Regions from separate parts of the Homo sapiens genome. Here regions 1 and 3 are each linked to region 2. Evidence: fine-mapped expression QTL. A gene starts in region 2. Each other region holds a variant in brackets. All regions are shown on one strand. Distances are from middle to middle.

Region 1 (2,764 bases), 21 kb before region 2:
AAATGGAAAACCTCTGGCAAGGATCTATACATTTAGATGCCATTAAAAATATTTGTGAGTCAAGGGAGGAGGTGAAAATATCAACAATAAGTGGTATTAGGAAGGAGTTGATTCCAACTCTCATGGATGACTTCGAGTTCAAAACTTCAGTGGGGGAAGTAACTGCAGATGTGGTAGAAATGGCAAGATAACTAGAATAAAAAGTGGATACTGAAAATATGACCAAATTGCTGCAATCTCATTATAAAACTTGAGCAGATGAGGAGATACTTTTTATCGATGAGCAAAGAAAGTGGTTTCTTGAGATGAAGTCTGTCTCTGGTGAAGATGCTATGAACATTACTGAAATGACAACAAAAAATTTAGAATATTACATAAACTTAGTTGATAAAGTAACAGCAGGGTTTGATAGGATTGACTCCCATTTTGAAAGTTATACTGTGGGTAAGCCGCTATTAAACAGCATTGCATACTACAGAGAAATCTTCTGTGAAAGAGTCAACTGATGTGGCAAACTTCATTATTGTCTCATTTTGAGAAATTGCAAAAAAAAAAAAAAAAAATACTGGGCATGGTAGCACACACCTGTAGTCCCAGCTACTCAGGAACACTGAAGTAGGAGGATCGCTTGAGCCCGAAAGGTTGAGGCTTCAGTGAGCCATGACTGTGCCACTGCACTCAAGCCTGGGCAACAGAGAGAGACCCTGAAAAAAAAAAAAAGAAAGAAAAAGAAAGAAGGAAGGAAGGAAGGAAAGAAGGAAAAAAAAGAAAAAAAGAAAGAAAGAAAAAAAGAAAGAGAAAAAGAAAAGAAATAGCCATAGCCACCCAACCTTCACCAACCACCACCCTGGTCAGTCAGTAGCCATCAACATGGAGGCCTGACACTCCACCAGCAAAATATTGTGACTTGCTGAAGCCTCACGTGATTGTTAGCATTTTTTGGCAGTATTTTTAAATTGAGGTATGTACATTGTGTTTTTTAGACATAATGCTATTGCACATAACAGACTATATAGTACGGTATATAAACATAACTTTTATATGGACAGGAAAACAAAAAAATGTGTGATTTGCTTTATTATGATACTTGCTTTATTGTGGTGATCTGGAACTGAACCTGCGATATCTTAAAAGGTATGCCTGTGTATAGTGTGTGCG[CGT/C]GTGTGTGTGTGTGTGTACCCATGAATGCATATATTAAAATGCTGGTTTTAGTATTCTTAGAAGGCATTTATGAAAACAATTCTTGCACCTCTCAGAGTAGCTATGTGCCTCTTGAACTTGGATATATATTTAGAACATTCAGATAAAAATGCAAATATGATTTTTGTTTGCTTTTTATGGAAAGTTATGGTGAATATTTTAATTATATTGAATAGTTCTTTGATATAATTTATGAAACCACATACTTAAAAATCTAAAATGATGTAGATTATTAGAATCTACAACTTTATTGGCAAATTATTTTTCTATAATAACCATTTCCCTAAATAAACATACTTTTGAAAACAATCATGTGCCATACTTTAAACAAATGATTTCTCTGTTTATAGGATAAACAAACATGGTCCTCTTGAGGTTATATTTTGGAGTATACATTTAAAAACTGTCAGTAAAAACTGTCTGGTGTTCAGCTCATTAGCCAGTGTTCATTTTAATTATTTAAAAATTTATTTTTAAATCTCAATAGCTTTAGGGGTATCGGTAGTTTTTGGTTACATGGATGAACTCTATAGTGGTGAAATCTGGACTTTTAGTATACCAGTCACCCAAACAGTGTACATTGTACCCAGTAGGTAAATTTTCATTCCTTACCCCCCTTCCATCCTCCCCCTCATTTTAATTCTTGAGCATTGATTAGTAAAGCTTTTCCTTTTTTTAAGTTCTACCTAATTTGTCTTATTTTTAGCTAAGTGGGTCACACAGCTCTAAAACCTATTATTTATGGAAGCTAACATTAAAATAAAAATCCAGGTCAATACACATGTAAATCATGGTTGTCCTACATTGGAATAAGTTGCCAACTCTGCCTTTAGATACATTATCTAATGTAACAGTCAAGTTTACTTAATGGCAACAAATCAGTATGTGCTCTTCAGTGACAAGCAGTGATAGTGCCTTCATCTATCAAAAAAGTGAGAGGAAAACATATCATTACTTTGTACACTTAAATTGTTTCAGTGAGGCCAGGCATGGTGGCTCACACCTGTAATCCCTGCACTTTGGAAGGCCAAGGCAGGTGGATCACCTGAGGTCAGGAGTTCGAGACCAGCCTGGCAAACATGGTGAAACCCCATCTCTACTAAAAATATAAAAATTAGCCAGGCATGGTGGCATACACCTCTAGTCCCAGCTACTCAAAAGGCTGAGGCATGAGAATCACTTGAACCCGGGAGGCGGAGGTTGCAGTGGGCTGAGATTGCACCACTGCAGTCAGCCTGGGTGACAGAGCAGCACTCTGTCTCAAAAAAAAAAAATTATTTCAGTGAAAAATAATTGAAATTGTGATTTTAATTAACATTTTAATGACAAATTTAATGTATGTAATTGCCTATTCATTTTAAGTTAATCTCCTAAAAATCTGACTTGAGACATATATTTTGTTTGCATTATGAACAGTAAGCAATCTGAGATGTTAGGTTTTCTCACCTGATATTGTATTTGTATACAAAGATAAATGTTGCTTTAATAAGTAATTATAATTGTGAATAGAATATGTATTTGATACTTGATTTTTTTGAGACAGGGTCTCGCTCTGTTGCCCAAG
Region 2 (2,764 bases):
GAGTCAAAGAAAAGTTAATCGATACCATTTATCTAGTTAAGCAGGCTTTGAGCAGTTCATCTCCTCCCGTCCTCAAAACGACCTTCTGAGGTGTCTCCTGCAACCCTGCTCTGAAGCTCAGAGCGAGACGGCCTCACATCCCAGGGGGCTCAGCTCTGGCGGGGCCGCCACGCGCCTCCCCGTGCCTTTGGACGGGTGAGGAGAGCTGCTGCCCCGGCGGGGACCACGTGGAGGGGCCTGGTCAGCAAGTGGCAAGGACGCGGCGCAAAGCCAGGCTTTCTAATGTACAATCCGCGGCTCTTTCGATACTGAACACCCACCTCTTCAACAAATTCGAGCGCCTGGCAGGCCCTGCACCAAGCCTAGGGTGATGGCGACCCAGGCGGGTTTTTACTCTCAAGGAGCTCAATTCTAGGGCAGGGAGAAGTAAAATTAAAAAAAAAAAAATCATAACAAACTGAAAAACACATAAATAAGCCACGTCTCTCCTCACCCCTAGCACTTAATCACAAAGGCCTGTAGAGAGTCCCGACGAGAACTTCTGAGCAGGCCCCGCTGTCAGTCCCTGAGGACAGCATGCAAGGGAGGTTGACGTCCCTGGACGAAGAAAGTGCTGGAGAAACTGGCGACCGTCCCACCTTCCCTAAGGCGAAGGCTCTGAATTCCGAAGACCGTTACTCGGCGCGGAACGCGGGCACCGCCGACGTCAAAACACCGGGCCTGGGGGCCGCGGCCTACGCGTCTCCCGGGCTTCGCGCCCCTCGCCCGATTTGATTGGATGGTGGCGGGAAGAAGGCGGGGAGACCCCCGGAGGAGGGGCGCGCAGGCCGGCCGGGGGTTCCCACGGAGGCGTCCAGGGGGCGAAGGGGCGGGAGCGGGCCTCGGAGCGTCGCGCGTGCGCAATTGGGACACAGCCGGCTGGGGACTGCTGGGAGGGCCGGACCCTGCGAGAACGGGTGGGCGTGTGCCCGGTGGGCGCGGGAGGGGCCCGGGCTGCACGAGCGCGCGTGCGCGTCGGAACTGGAGCCGCGGGAGGAGGCGGGAGCTGAGGAGGCGGCGGAGGGGGCGGGTCGCGTCGGGCGCCACGTCCGCAGCCAGAGGCCTCCGCCTCCACCACCGCCGCCACAGTCTTCCAGCTCCACATCCTGAGAGGACGCCTCTGGAGCCGCGACTGCCCGGGGTTGTGCCGGCCGCCGCTGCCGCCCAGGCCGCCTCAGCTCTCCTCTGCGCCGGCCCGCTCACTCCGCCCGGCCCCAGCCCTAGCGCTGGCCGCGACCCCGGCGGTGAGTGAGTCGGGATGCGAGGGCAGGGGCGCAGTCCCGGCTTCCTGCCCTCCTCCGTCGCCCTCTGCCGTCGGCGCCCCTGCCCCTCACCTCCCAGTGCCCGGCCTGGCTGCCCAGCGGGGCCTTGGCGAGGCCCCAGCGGGAAAGGGGGAGGGGCGGGACGAAGTTGGGGGCGGATGGAGGTTCGCTTCTGGGGCTACTCCTCCTTATACGTCGCTGACTGCCCCGCCGCGATTGGAGCTTGCGCACCCCTGGAAAGCCTCCGCCTGACTTCTTAGCATCTGGGGGTTCGGGGTTGGGGGCGGAGGAGGAAGGTGAGGGGCATCAGCAGCCTGGGAGAGGGATGCAGCGGAGGGGCTTGGGTACCGGGCTTCCTCGCCCTGCCAACTCCTGACCTGTTGCTAAACCTCCCTTTTGGGTTCAGGCACACAAGACTTTTTCCCAGTGGACACCCCCATAGCTCTTCCTGGGTAGGAAGGCTGTATCTCCACGCCTAACCTAAAGTAAAAGTGGGAATGGAGAGGGTGCTGGCCGCGCCCAGGGGTGACAGGGAGGGCTGGAGCACCCATCCGTGCCGTCACTGCCTCCCAGTCTAAATAAAAACTGCCTGCTCTGCACACGCAGCTTCAAGACCGACCCCCCAGCTCCCACTTCCAATCAGATCGCCTGTCCTAAACCCTTCTTACATAGAAATTCTGGAGCCCTTCGGGAGTGGGGGGAGTGCTGGGTGTACAACGTGGAGCGGAGGGAGGAGGTGCCAAGCTCAGTGCTAGCCACGGCGCCTCCAGGGTCATTTTCTGCCTCCTGCCACGTCACTCACTGCTAAAGAAAAAAAAAAGATTTGCTAGTGCCTAAAGGGATCAGTAGGGAGAGAAGGGGCCACCCGGAAGGGTTTAGAAACACCTAGAGAAAAGGGAAGGGTTCTTAATTTGATTTTTGCGTCCTTGTGAACACTGTGCTAATTCCAAATGAAAATATTTGCTATATGTGATTATTTGCTGTATGCTATTGTTTAGCCTTTGAAACTTCTGCTGGTGTGAGTGCCCTCAGGGGTTCCCCAGGAATATCGATACAACACCAACAGGTAAACGCGCGCGCCCGTGTGTGTGTGTGTGTGTGTGTGTGTGTGTGTGTGTGTGTGTGTGTATGTGTGTGCGCGCTCGCGCCCATGCTTAACTTTTTAAAAAGAAAGGGAGAAGTAGCCTTTGATAAACCCATATGCATCCTGTTTTGCTTTTTCCACTTTCATTTCTTTAGTCTTTGTTAGAACAGATGTACCAGAAACCAAGTTCAGTAAAAATTTGTCCATTTATAGAAAGCATCGTTAGAAATTATAACGGTTGCTACATTGGACAAATATACAGATTTCTTTGTGTGTGCATGGGTTTGATTTTTTTTTTTTTAACTACAGGAAAATCTTTACCTTTGTTTCAGTTATTCGGTATTTGCTCTTTTTCTATTTCCGGAAGATATCTCACTGG
Region 3 (2,764 bases), 160 kb after region 2:
ATATATAATGCAGGATCTCAAGAGAGATATTTGAGCTGGAAATACAGATTTGGCATCCTTAGCATATAGTCGTTGGAATGACTGACATCCCTCAGGAAGAGTGTTGGCAAAAGAGAAAAGGGCTTGGAGGCAGAACCCTGGGGCCAGAAAAGCAAGAAGTGTCTGCACAGAGAGACAATGAAGAAAGATTTAAAAGAGAGCTAGGAGCCACAGGGAGATGATGGTTTTGAGATCTACAGAGTGGTCACAGGTATCAAAAGCAATCTAAGGTCCAAGGAAATCTTGATAGGAGCAATTTTAGGGGAATTGTCGGCTTGCTCTCTCATTGCTTTTGAATCCCTGTGACTACTGCCTTGTGACCAAGCCCAGCCTAGCCTGCTGCATGATGAGAAACCACATGGAGAAAGGAGTCAGTTATCCCAGCTGACCCAGCTAGCCTTACCAACTAGCCTTACCATCTTATGGTACAGCCGATGACAGCATTACCACTGAGTTATTTAGCTTTTCTTTCTTCCTGGTAGTAACTCACAGAAGACTTTTGACTCCTGGACTTAAAGATATGTCTAATGGTGAGGATACAATTTTTGGAGGAGATTCCACAAATAAGAGCTCTGCGTACTATCTGAAGAAGATATACTCTACTTTCTGAAGCATTGTCATCAATTCCATTTCTTAAAATTCCTGATGTTTGCATGTACTTGCTGCCTCACACCTCCACTTTAGAAAAGTGTGTTCTTAAATCTTGGGTCCAGAAATGTGGTAATGGACCCACTTTAATTGGCTTCCAAGGTAATACAGTTCTCTGTATTTCCTTCTTCAACGTGGCCTTTGTAGTATGCAAATTTTCGCATCTTCCCTGACAAAGCATGATAGGTGCATCTTTATCGATAAGAAATGCTTGCTCTCTTAAGGACCATTGCTCTGGCTATTCAGTAGATTTTGGTGTAGGGACCACTTTCTCTGCAGGAAGTCTCTGGTGGTTAGCAAGCCCTGCTATATGGGCATTTTAATCTGCAAAGTGCTGAATTAAAGGCTCTGTTTTGTTCGAGCAGCCTTTTAAAAATGTAATAGCTGCTATTTCATCTTGTTTGAACATCTTGTATAAGTACATGACAAGTCAATTCCAAAATTCCTTGTCTGCCTTGAGGTTTGTCTTTCGCTGAAGAAAAATGATGAAAGTGGCCTCTTATCTTCCTGTTTACAGTCAGTCATTCTGCTTCATTAGGCTGCATGCTAATTACTTTCTGAAAACACAACTGAAGATTCATGGCCTAAACAGAATTAAATTACTAAAAGCTAAATATAGCTTTGGAGATTATTTTATTTAATGTTAAGAGGGCTAAAACAAATAATTATATAAAAATTAGAATTATGAAATAATCTAATCTCTATATTCTGCCTAATGC[C/T]ATTTAAATTTTTATAAAGCTTTTTGATTCAAAAAGGATATTATATTCTGCCTAAAGTTTTCTAGTTAATGCTATCTCTATTTACATGTTAGAAATTTCTTGAAATTTTTTTTCATAACATGGAGAACTTTCATAATCATCATGAACTATTCCAGCATTTTACTCTGGCAAATTAAAAATATACATTTATACTTCAACTGAGTGATAGGAGTTCAAAGTCCAAAGCACACAAATAATTTCTTTTTACTCTCAGTTACATCTAAAATACTTACCTATGTTTGAAAGTACACGTTCAGATATTAATAATGACTCTGAATAGCATGTCTTATTGTATTATTGTGCTGATTAAATTTGATGGTAACTATGCATTCACTTGCTCATTGATCAAATGCACATTCAGGGAGCCCAGAAATGACATTAAAGTTGGCATTCTGTTACTCAGCCTTCCAACGGTCAAAGCCAATACCTAAACACATTTTGGCCAAATATTGTGGCTGAAGCCAAACTTTAGTACAACCCTCATTCCCAGGAAACAGTGATTGAAAGGAAGTCCAGGCATTTAGGCAGGAAGAAAAGGGCAACTATAACCACAACACCAAGAAAAATAAAAAATAAAATAAAAAAAGGCCAGCTATAATAAGCAGACATGATTTATTGCTCAAATTAGCAAGGAATATAGAGTTAGGCCAGAAATAGGATTTGGTGATCAAGGATAGAGAACTTTCTTGTGAGTTCAGGGACACTTAGATTAGATCTACCCTTTAGGAAAGTCTGCTAAATGTCATATTAATGCTAAGTTCTTTGTATGTACAGCCCAGATGTCTGCTAGGTTGATAGGCTCTGCTAATTAGTAGTTCCACCTCAACCTGCCTCCCAGCACCATCAGTGATCACAGTTATTTCCAGAAGACACCCAAAGTGTGATTCAAACCTTTCTTCTGTTGCTTGGTATCATATGTCTACCGACATTGTCTATGCAGCTGCTTGGAGAAGGCTCCCCACCCCGCATTGCTGCCACCTTGCATGGGAGTGCCCAGGACCCTGCCAAGAACTGTACTGAAGATTTGCCTTTGGGTACTTTCAGATTTCAACCCCTGAGGTGCCTGAACAGTGTTTGCCAAGGGTTTGTTTGCCAAGGGTTTGGGCAGCGTGGTGGAGTAGCCAGGCGAACATGGTTTCCTTCAAGATTGCTTCTAAAGCAGCTTTTCTTATGCTCAGAGCCCCTCAAATCCTCTTGAGTAGCCCCATCTGCCTCCACACTTCCCTCTCCTTGAGGGCTGAAAATAAGACACTATTTCATCACCTTTCTGGGTTTTTTCCCCTTTTCCTACTCAGCCCTTCCCCTCATGAAAACATCTC

What was found. PIP is the estimated chance that this variant, and not a neighbour inherited with it, causes the effect.
Region 1: its variant is fine-mapped to the expression of TMEM263 in whole blood (INTERVAL, PIP above 0.99).
Region 3: its variant is fine-mapped to the expression of TMEM263 in whole blood (TOPMed, PIP 0.99).

What each region holds. Positions count from the first base shown.
Region 1 is chr12:106,933,708-106,936,471 of GRCh38, forward strand. No RefSeq gene overlaps it. Among named protein-coding and RNA genes, the nearest start is that of TMEM263-DT, 20 kb to the right of the region's middle. The variant CGT/C (reference allele first, on the strand shown) is at 1,159.
Region 2 is chr12:106,954,783-106,957,546 of GRCh38, forward strand. It overlaps TMEM263 (transmembrane protein 263), which reads left to right and starts at 1,125. Exons shown (of 4, transcript NM_152261.4): 1 at 1,125-1,283; 2 at 2,300-2,367. TMEM263-DT (TMEM263 divergent transcript) reads right to left here and starts at 713. Exons shown (of 1, transcript NR_185933.1): 1 at 1-713. RefSeq lists a silencer at 753-1,512 and enhancers at 789-1,083, 2,013-2,072.
Region 3 is chr12:107,116,289-107,119,052 of GRCh38, forward strand. No RefSeq gene overlaps it. Among named protein-coding and RNA genes, the nearest start is that of CRY1, 24 kb to the left of the region's middle. The variant C/T (reference allele first, on the strand shown) is at 1,407.